Linked DNA regions of Homo sapiens. The protein of the gene in region 1 purifies or fractionates together with the protein of each later gene. This does not show direct contact. Each region holds a gene or a part of one and is shown in the gene's direction. Other genes may lie near its edges.

Evidence for each region.
Region 2: the proteins of BANF2 (region 1) and APAF1 purify together in Homo sapiens (affinity purification with mass spectrometry; one large-scale study listed by BioGRID and IntAct). This does not show direct contact.
Region 3: the proteins of BANF2 (region 1) and OXSR1 purify together in Homo sapiens (affinity purification with mass spectrometry; one large-scale study listed by BioGRID and IntAct). This does not show direct contact.

The regions. Positions count from the first base shown.
Region 1 is NC_000020.11:17,706,386-17,710,040, forward strand, and holds part of BANF2 (barrier-to-autointegration factor-like protein), read left to right. Parts: intron 1-3,655. UniProt on the Homo sapiens protein: May play a role in BANF1 regulation and influence tissue-specific roles of BANF1.
Region 2 is NC_000012.12:98,662,171-98,665,825, forward strand, and holds part of APAF1 (apoptotic protease-activating factor 1), read left to right. Parts: intron 1-285; coding exon 286-398; intron 399-504; coding exon 505-636; intron 637-2,880; coding exon of another isoform or gene 2,881-2,909; exon of another isoform or gene 2,910-3,188; intron 3,189-3,382; coding exon 3,383-3,621; intron 3,622-3,655. UniProt on the Homo sapiens protein: Oligomeric Apaf-1 mediates the cytochrome c-dependent autocatalytic activation of pro-caspase-9 (Apaf-3), leading to the activation of caspase-3 and apoptosis. This activation requires ATP. Isoform 6 is less effective in inducing apoptosis.
Region 3 is NC_000003.12:38,227,948-38,231,602, forward strand, and holds part of OXSR1 (serine/threonine-protein kinase OSR1), read left to right. Parts: intron 1-1,739; coding exon 1,740-1,788; intron 1,789-2,417; coding exon 2,418-2,483; intron 2,484-3,655. UniProt on the Homo sapiens protein: Effector serine/threonine-protein kinase component of the WNK-SPAK/OSR1 kinase cascade, which is involved in various processes, such as ion transport, response to hypertonic stress and blood pressure.

The DNA.
Region 1 (3,655 bases):
AGTAGCTGTTGGTTAGTTGGCTGAACTCACAGGTATGAGCTTAACACGAAGGATTCAAGCTCTGGCTCTTCTCTTCGCCAAGTATATGATCTTGGGCATGTTACTAAACTGTCTAAGCCCCCATTTCCTCATCTGGCAAATGGGGCTCAGATATGTTCCTACATCATAGCTTTGTCGTGAGGATTAAATAAGATGTCTGTGAATTAGCAAGACACCTAGCCCATCCGTAGTAGGGGATCCTTAAGTGATGGCAGGAATGGAGAGGTAGGAACAGATCCACCAAGTAAAGGGTAAAGCCAAGATCAAACACAAATCCAGCCAGGTGTGGCTCCTTCTGCCTTTTCACTGCCACTAAGAGAGGGGTAGCATTCAATGAGCAGATGGCAGTGGCTCAGAGTGCAGATCAGTGCAAAGGTCTTTCTCGTCTTCTCTGCAAAGAAGGAGGGATGGCATATGTGTATCTTTGGTCATTTCCAGGTGACTCTATCCAAAGTCCATGCAGGCAAGTAGACGCTGTGAGCAGGATGGAATATACAGATCCAAACCTCTAGAGCAGAGCTAGGGCCAGGCATGACTTGATCAACATCTAAATGCCACCAACACCCAAGGGCCACACAGAGGGAAGAGACCGGGGACCACATCTTGGCACTTTCAGATGGGTTTGCAAGCACTGGAAATCAAAGCTTCACCAGGGATGCTTTAAAGATGAAAATCCCAGCCGGGCGCAGTGGCTCACGCCTGTAATCCCAGCACTTTGGGAGGCCAAGGCAGGCAGATCACGAGGTCAGGAGATTGAGACCATCCTGGCTAACACAGTGAAACCCCATCTCTACTAAAAAAAAAAAATACAAAAAATTAACCGGGCATGGTGGCAGGCGCAGTCCCAGCTACTGAGGCTGAGGCAGGAGAATGGCGTGAACCCAGGAGGTGGAGCTTGCAGTGAACCGAGATCGCACCACTGCACTCTGGCCTGGGGGACAGAGCGAGACTCTGTGTCAAAAAAAAGAAAATCCCAGTAAGGATTTAAGGGAAGATGCTGGGAGTAGCATGTGGTCCCCGAGTAGGAAGATGGAAGTACAGCAGAGGCAAGAATGGCAGTCACTGTTTGTAGATATTTTTCACAGGGAAGGTCAGAACATGTCCCAGGGAAACCATGTCCAAGGTTCAAGATGAGAATGACCTGATCCTATATATATATATACTTTTTTTTTGAGATGGAGTTTTGCTCTTATTGCCCAGGCTGGAGTGCAATGGCACGATCTCGGCTCATTGCCACATCCACCTCCTGGGTTTAAGTGATTCTCCTGCCTCAGCTTCCCGAGTAGCTGGGATTACAGGCATGTGCCACCACACCCGGCTAATTTTTTTGTATTTAGTAGAGACGAAGTTTCACCATGTTACTCAGGCTGGTCTCGAACTTCTGACCTCAGATGATCCACCCACCTTGGCCACCCAAAGTGCTGGGATTACAGGCGTGTGCCACTGCACCCAGCCCCAGCCAAGATTGTTTTTTAAGAATCAAAACTTGACTACGGGCTGGACACGGTGTCTCATGCCTGTAATCCTAGCATTTTGGGAGGCCAAGGCAGATGGATCACTTGAGGTCAGGAGTTTGAGACCAGCCTGGCCAACATGGTGAAACCCTGTCTCTACTAAAAATCAAAAAAAAAAAAAAAAAAAAACCAAAAAGAATTAGCCAGGTGTTGCGGTGCATGCCTGTAATCCCAGCTACTCGAGAGGCTGAGACAGAAGAATCACTTGAAACCAGGATGCAGAGGTTGTGGTGAGCTGAGATCATGCCACTGCACTCTAGCCTGGGTGACAAAGTGATATGTCTCGAACAAAAACAAAAACAAACAGAAAAAAACCTGAGATCCCTGATCCACAAAAGCCTGAAATATGATGTCAAATTGTATTTATATGTGCAAGGGGGCATTTTTCTTGAAGGAAGGTCCATAGCAGGAGAGACAAACCGTGGCATGGCTTTGTTTTGTTGGGTCCATACAGCATTATGAATATTTGAATGATTTCCCAACATTTAAAAATTGGATACTAGTACATAAAAATCTAAACGTTGGGCTTCTCTTGAAAAGACTCAGAAGAGCCAGTCACATGGGACCCACATTCCAGAAAGGGGTGGCCTCCTTTAGATGGGGTCTGGGACCTCAGTCAGCTACACAGTCCATAGCACTTTTGTGACCTCCTCAGTGGATGTCCAATGTTGGTCCTCTTTTATCAGCGCCCTTGCACTGTTTTCTTCACTGCTTTATTTTTTTAATTTGCCTTGTCCCTCTGGCTTTTTCATTTGCAACCCGTGATTTGAACTTTTAATAGATGCTCAAAGGGTGGCTGATTTTAAGAAGATCATTGAAACCGAGATCTTTTTTCCAGCTTAAACTCTTTCCCAACAATCCAGTGTTGAAACTGACCCTTAGTAGAGGCGGAACACCACCCTTCCCAGGCCCAGAAACAGATTCTTTTCCTCCTAAGGAATGCGTGTATGTTGTTTGTCCAAGCGCATGTTTACAAATGGCAAGCTTATCTTCTGATGTTATAAAACACCAAAAGCTATTTAGAAATTACTGAAACTCCTATCTATAGTTTCTGCAAGATACTGCTCAGGTGATAATGCAATCAATGAAAGCAATGACAATCTGGGAAATCCTTTCTTTATAACCTTGAGAATGTGGCTTTGAATGGAGACAAATCAAACAGATAGAACTCTTGCTCAGGCCCCTTTTCTGAAGCCAGAGCCAACAAGCCTAGTGATTTTCTTTTGAAAGGGTCTTAAGTAGGTCTTTGCATTTGGGAAGATCAGGCAAGTCACTTAGAGCCGATTTCTGAACTGAGACTCACAGAAGCACATACTCACACCCTCCTATCTGGAGACATGTGGACCTGGAGGGCTGGAGGAACTCAGATGCCTTGGTCCTTAGGAGGATCCAGAACCACCGCACTGAGGCCTAGCAGGCAAGGGCAGGACACACAAAATGTGAGAGCAGAGGAATGAAGGAAAATTAAATCTTGGGCGAGGCATTCTGTCCAGCAAAGAACAGGAGGTGAATACATGGCACGTGGGCCTTCGATATCCTATGAGTGGAATGAAGGCAATGCTTAAAACACTGCACCACTGCACAGCTCCACCTGTACACAAGATGCCCCTTTGTTTTGGGGCAGCCAACTGCTGCATCTCCTGTTTATATGTGCACCCAAGCAGAGGAAGTCAGTCCAAAGCTAGAAGGAGGGAAAATGATTGCCCAGAAGCTCAATGGAAGCCTTGCTTAATATCTCAGTGGTTGAGAACACAGATATTAGGCTGAGGCCCACTCGGTTTGAGGCCTGGCAATGCCATAGGTCAGTTAATTTATCTTATCTGTGAAATGGGATAATCATAGAAGCTATCTCATCCCAAGGGCAGGTGGGTGGATGAAATGAGATGATCTTGGTGCGGAGCTTAGCACGGTGCCTTGGTAAGCCTGGATAAGCATGAGCCGCTCTCTTAGGTGGGTTTCCCAGTTGCTGACCTGATCATCTAATTGCAGTGCAAGTAGTTGATATGGAAAGGGTTCCTGGTCCCATGAGGAAGGGAGTGAGGATGTGAGACCGGGAAGGGAAGGTGGCCTTGAGCAGTTACTGCCATGAGCACTGGGGGCTC
Region 2 (3,655 bases), on another chromosome or scaffold:
TCAGTAAGTGATGGCTGAACCTTTTATGGTAGGATCTGTAATTTTAATATGTTCTGATTTAGGGTTTGAGGAGAAGGCAGTCTCTAATTTTTTTTTTCCTTATTTGAATCAGCATATTGAGAAGAGTATAGCAAAGAGGAAGAATCATTTTCCTAGATCTAGCCATCTATTTGTTTTAAAAAAAATTTAATTTGGTAGATTTTAAAAGACACTGGTGGGATTATCTTTTTAAAAGGAAGCTTAAGATAAGTGTCATTAGTGATTAATATTTTTTTTTTAAATTAGGTCTCTCTTGATCTTGGATGATGTTTGGGACTCTTGGGTGTTGAAAGCTTTTGACAGTCAGTGTCAGATTCTTCTTACAACCAGAGACAAGAGTGTTACAGATTCAGTAATGGGTAAGGATTATTCGTTTACTTTTTAGTACCTTTATATTTAATTTAATTACATTTAAATATGTGACATACCAAATTACTTACTTTGTCTTGTGATTTTTGTTTGCAGGTCCTAAATATGTAGTCCCTGTGGAGAGTTCCTTAGGAAAGGAAAAAGGACTTGAAATTTTATCCCTTTTTGTTAATATGAAGAAGGCAGATTTGCCAGAACAAGCTCATAGTATTATAAAAGAATGTAAAGGTATGGTTATTTATTTGTTTATGAGGAGATTATAGGGAGTTATATAATTTCCCTTTTGTTAATTGAGCTAATGAATATGGTAATTTAGCACATGAACATCCAAAAACTTTTCTGGGAGATTTAGTATTTTAGGTTCTCTGATATCTTAAATGGATACATGATATTATGGTATTTATTTATTCATTAAAATAATATTTACCATCTACCCACAGTGTGTTAGAGACCACATTAGTGAGAGAAGTGAGACACAGATGTGACCTCTGCTGTTAGAGTTAAAAATAGAGTGAGAATCAGATTTTAAAACTTGTTTTTGCTTGGGATTTTATAAAAATAGTGTTCTAATTTGGTAAGTAAAAACTGGTGTCTTAATTTGCATTTTTTTTTAGCGAAGTTAAACTTTTTACTTGTTTATTGAATACGTTTTAAGAAGTTATCCTTGACTTTAAGAAATTATCCTTGACTCACTTTTCTTTTTTGATATAAGTATTTTTAATTTATTTCTAAATACTCAAAAAATAGAAACTATTAGCTCTTTGTCATATTTTTACAAGTATTATTTCCCAGTAAAACAATTTTTTAACTTAAAATTTATATATAGAATCTCGCTGTGTTGCCCAGGCTGGTCTTGAACTACTTGCCTCAAATGATCCTCCTGCCTTAGCCTCCTAAAGCACTGGGACTACAGGCATGAGTCACCATGTCCAGCCTGTTACCCAGTTTTTTGTGTACCTTTTATTTGTTGTATTCTTTTGACATATAGAAGCTTAAAATTTTAAACAGTCAAATCTATCAACTCTTAAAATTATTTCTTTCATTATTGTTATGCTTGGAAATACCTTATTTTTCTTCTTTTTCTTTTTTTTTCTCTTTTGAGACAAGTCTCACTCTGTCGTCCAGGCTGGAGTGCAGTGGCGTGATCTCGGCTCACTGCAACTTCTGCCTCCCAGGTTCAAGCAGTTCTTCTGCCTCAGCCTCTCGAGTATCTGGGACTACAGGCATGTTCCACCATGCCTAGCTAATTTTTGTATTTTCAGTAGAGACGGGGTTTCGCCATGTTGGTCAGGCTGGTCTCGAACTCCTGACCTCAGGTGATTGCCCGCCTCAGCCTCCCAAAGTGCTGGGATTATAGGCATGAGCTACCATACCTGGCCACCTTATTTTTCATTCTGCCATCAAATAGACACACAGTTTTGTTTGTTTATTTATTTATTTATTTATTTTATTTATTTTTTGAGACGAGTCTCACTCTGTCGCCCAGGCTGGAGTGCAGTGGTGCGACCTCTGCTCACTGCAACCTCTGCTGCCCAGGTTCAAGTGATCCTCCTGCCTCAGCCCCCTAGTAGCTGGGATTACAGGTGCGTGCTACCTCACCCAGCTAATTTTTGTAGTTTTAGTAGAGATGGGGTTTCATCATCTTGGCCAGGGTAGTCTTGAACTCCTGACCTCGTGATCCACCTGCCTCAGCCACCCAAAGTGCTGGGATTACAGGCGTGAGCCACCACACGTGGCCAGTTTTGTTAATTTTTAAAGAAATCTTACACTTAGAAAAAATGCTTAATTTGTAGTTATTACAAAGGGTGATGCATGTCCATTTTGAAAATGTGTGAAACTAAAAAAAAAATAGAAATTATCCATAACCTGATAATTATTAGCATCATGAGAGTATTGCCTCCAGTCTTTTAGAACAAAGATTTAAAAAGTTGAGATTATGTATATGTGGTTTTGGATTTTGCCCTTTTTTTTTTAAAGAGCCAGGGTCTTGCTCTGTCACCCAGGCTGGAGTGCAGTAAGATCACAGCTCACTGCAGGCTTGAATGTCTTGGCTTAAGCAATCCTCCTGCCCCAGCCTCCTGAATAGCTGGGACTGCAGATACCCACCACCACACCTGGGTAATTTTTAAATTTTTTTGTAGGGACAGGGTCTCACTATGTTGCCCAGGCAGGTCTCAAACTTCTGCCCTCAAGCAATCCTCCCACCTCAGCCTCCTGAAGTGCTAGGACTACAGACACATGTCGCCACACCCAGCTGGATCTTACCCTTTTTCTATATCTTGAGCATTTTCCCATGTTGTTAAATATTTTTTTGAAAAAAATTTACCAGTGGCATAATATTGATATATCTTAATTTATTCAACCACTTCTGTATTATTGGACATTGTTTACGTTGTTTAAGATTTTTTCACTATTCTAAGTGTGCTGTGATGAATATCCTTAAACTTAATCATTCTTTTCTTTTTCTTTAAGACAGAGTCTCACACTGTTCCTCAGGCTAGGATGCAGTGGTGCTGTCATGGCTCACCGTAGCCTCAACCTCCTGGGCTGAAGCAATCCTCCCACCTCAGCCTCCTAAGTAGCCGGCACTATAGGCACACACCACCACACCTGGCTGATTTTTCTAATTTTTATTTTTAGTAGAGACAAGGTCTCATTATATTGCTTAGACTGGCGCATATATATATATATATATATATATTTTTTTTTTTTTTTGTAATGACATCTTAGCCAGATTTGATCTATGTTATTTTGACTTAATAAAGATAATCAGGAACTTACTGAATGAAATCTTTCTTATTTCTAATTTTTTTTGGGATAAATATCTAGAAGTGAAGTCAAGAGTGATAAATACTTAAGGCTTTTGATAACATGCAGCAGAAATTGTTTCTTAGTAATGTAAGTAAGTAAGTCGATTCTTATTAGTGACAAAATAGGATGGTATTAGCATAGTGACTTCATTTTTTTTTTAAAGGCTCTCCCCTTGTAGTATCTTTAATTGGTGCACTTTTACGTGATTTTCCCAATCGCTGGGAGTACTACCTCAAACAGCTTCAGAATAAGCAGTTTAAGAGAATAAGGAAATCTTCGTCTTATGATTATGAGGCTCTAGATGAAGCCATGTCTATAAGTGTTGAAATGCTCAGAGAAGACATCAAAGATTATTACACAGATCTTTCCATCCTTCAGAAGGACGTTAAGGTGCCTACAAAGGTAATGGGATCAATGATCCTCATCATTGGGTATT
Region 3 (3,655 bases), on another chromosome or scaffold:
TGAGGATACATTCTGTAATATGTGTATTAGGCAGTTTTGTCATTGTTTGAACATCGTGGAGTGTACTTACACAAACTTTGATGGTACAGCCTACTGCATGCCTAGGCTATTTAGTGTAGCCTGTTGCTCTGACTACTGTCAGATACACAGTATATTGTTGGCCAAAGCATTAAGAGGCTCATGACTGTGACTTTAACCCAGAGTTCTCCAGCTAGTCAGACTATCATTCAAGAATGAGCATGAAATTATTTTGCACACAGAAATTGAGTTTTCCAGTCACGTTCTGTCACTTAAAGAACCCATAAGTTGTACTTTAGAAAGAAGGAAATGAAGTCAGAAGAAAGGAATGAATAATAAGAAGCAATGTTGAGCAATCACATTGTTGAGCATATTGAGAAGCAATTGTTGAGCATATGAAAAAATAAGAGTGATAATGTAGGATTTCAGTTTGCATAGCACTTTCACATTTATTCAGCTTTTTAATCTTTATAATAATCATCTGAGGTGCTGGTTCTTAAACTTGAATGCCTATTGGAATTACCTGGGGAGTTTTAAACATTACTAAAGCCAATTAAAGATTCTGCTTTAATTGGTTTGAGGTACAGCCTGGTCATTGGTTTTGTTTGTTCGTTTGTTTGTTTTTGAGACAGTCTTGCTTTGTCGCCCAGGCTGGAGTACAGTGGCACAATCTTGGCTCACTGCAACCTCCGCCTCATGGGTTCAAGCAATTCTCCTGCCTCAGCCTCCCAAGTAGCTGGGACTACAGGCGCACGCCACCATGCCCTGCTAATTTTTGTGGTTTTTTTAGCAGAGACTGGGTGTCACCATATTGGCCAGGCTGGTCTTGAACTCCTGATATCGTGATCCACCCACTTTGGCCTCCCAAAGTTCTGGGATTACAAGCATGAGCCATGGTGCCCTCTGGTCATTGGGATTTTTACATTCTTCCCAGATAGTTCAATGCACAGCAGTGTTTAAGAACTTAGGGGCTTGGCCAAGTAATACTGAACCTTAGAGAGGTTGTGATTTGCTCAGGATCAGGTAGGTGTGTGGCAAAATCAGGTCCAGTCTCTTAAATGTTAAATTCTTTATTCTGAATGATACTCTTTTAAAAGCTTGTAAAATTGACAGTCGTGTCTTTACTTAAAAGGAAATAAGACCATGAAGAAATGAGTTAAACACTGAGTTTTGTTAAATTTGGGGAATATACTTTTAGAATTTTCATTTTTAAAGGGAGATTGTGAAATCTGTTTTTAGGGATCTGTGGTTACCTAAATTGAAGGCTGGCAGGCTACCATGTGGCAAGAAGTGGAGGTCTTGATTTGGTCCATTTCCTCTTTGTGTGTTTAAATATATTTTTATGCCTTGCTAAAAATGTTAGATAGATATTTTCTAGCTTACTTATTGGGAAATAATATTAAATATTAAATTAATATTATTAAATAGCAAATATATTAGACTCTATTAAGAAATCATGCTTCCAGAAAAAACATTTCACTAATGATTTTTTCAAAGAATCTACAATAATTATCAGAATATTTGTTTTGAGTTTTTTATTTTATTCAATGTCCTGTATCAAGTTTATTTTACTTTTGCTTTTTAGCAGTTTAAGGAAAGTAGAGTATACTGAGTTTTTATTTTGCTGTTGAAAAAAATTTTTTCTCATTTTTGATGATGGAATCTGACATTACACTTGAATTAATTATAAAAACTTTTCTTCCCTCCCTTCCTGGTTTTAGACCAACAGCAGCAGAACTATTAAGGCACAAATTTTTCCAGAAAGCAAAGGTAGGAAATTCCAGCTTTTGATTATGTGTGTTCATAGGATGCTCCTCAATTACTCAGATTATGTTCAGTGCTTAGAAGTTGGATGATTATGTTTGGAAAAATGATGGTAGATAAAATAATTGCAGAAAGCACTATGTATACAGTCTTTGATAATTAAGATAATTGCTTCAGAATTTAGTAAATCCGTTTTTAAATATTAGGTTAAACTGATCATAGGAACAATGATTATTAAATTTTGCCATTATAAATATAATTTGTGAAAAATACCGAACTCTGGTTTTAAGGTTTACTACTGAATTTGTAAACATCTCATTTCCCAAATATATCAGATAGTAGGATGTTACTGTAGTTGGAAATGTAGGACCATGATCTCAAAGAACATACAGTACAGCAAACTCTTCATAGACAGTGGTTCATACAGTGTACTACATCTTAATTTTCTGCCTCAATTTATGAAACTGTGGTAGTAACATACTAAAGGAGCTTCAGAGTGAAAGAATGAAAGTTTTTCTCACACTTCATTACAGAACAGTTACTATATCACATTTTGATTATGGTGAACTTTTTTGTGGGTTTTTTTTGGTACCTTAAAAACTTGTAAGAACAAAATACTTACTTTTCCTCTCCAGAATAAAGAATTTCTTCAAGAAAAAACATTGCAGAGAGCACCAACCATTTCTGAAAGAGCAAAAAAGGTAAATCAGAATTTAACTCAGTTTTCCTGAAGAATTTACTTTATTTTTGCATTTTGAAAACATGTTAAGTAATACATTGTTAATAGTATATGAGAATTACTGGTTTTCTGTCGATCCTTTCTAAAGCATTCTTTGATACATTCATTCAGCAAATATCTTTGGTCTACCATATGCCTTGGTATTACTCTGCTATCTTTTAGGATGAAAAGGGATGCTAGACAGTAATTGGTAAATTAATTCTAAACTCTGTTTGATAACTGTTTCCAGCTACCAGAGTGAGTTGTGATTTTACATGACATTTATAGCTTTGGGTATAAGTCACAGTACCCTCTTTGGAACTCCAAATTTTCTACTGCCTTTACAGAAAGACTGAAAGAACTTTATTACGCATATGTAATTTCTAAGAAGTTTGGTCATGATGTGAGCATACAGAATGCTTTAATATCTCAGTTTGGGCAGAATATATTAATCTTCCTGTCCATGATACTTTTATGAACCTCTGTGAGAGCAGGGAGAAGAAAATCCTCCCTTTTCCTCACTCTTACTTCTCTGCTCAAGCAGACTTATCCAATGTGAAGGAAAGGAGGCAGTTTGGGCTTCTGCTGATGATAGACTTGAAGAAGGTAAAGGTCTTACACCTTGTATAATATAGTGGTAGGCCTGTCCAAGAAGTTAGAAGCATTATGTCTAGCAGTGGCTTATTCTCTTCCGTAGATCTCACTGCTTGGGAATTTTGATACATTCCAAGAATTTAACACAATGAAGAACCAGAAATGTATATTAAATACTTGGAAATGATATTCTTAATAAGCACTGGTAAAACAGTTAACTTGTCTCTATTTTAGAGATATATCTTTTTCAGTGGCTATAATGCATCGTTACATATCAGAATCACTTGGGGACTTAAAAAAAAAAAGAAAGAAACATGGACAATGTCATCCCAAACCAATTAAAGTCATGACTCTAGTGGATGAGACCTGGACAATTATTCTCATGGATAGCTACTAGGTTAAAAACTCACTTGGCTCATTCCTTCACTTTATGTCAAGTCTACTCAATTGGCCTTTCCTCAGAATAATATTCTCTGATTACTAAAACAGTACCCTCCCATGACTCTCTATCCCTTTACCCTACTTATCACCATCTGACATTTTACAGTGTTTCTTTACCAT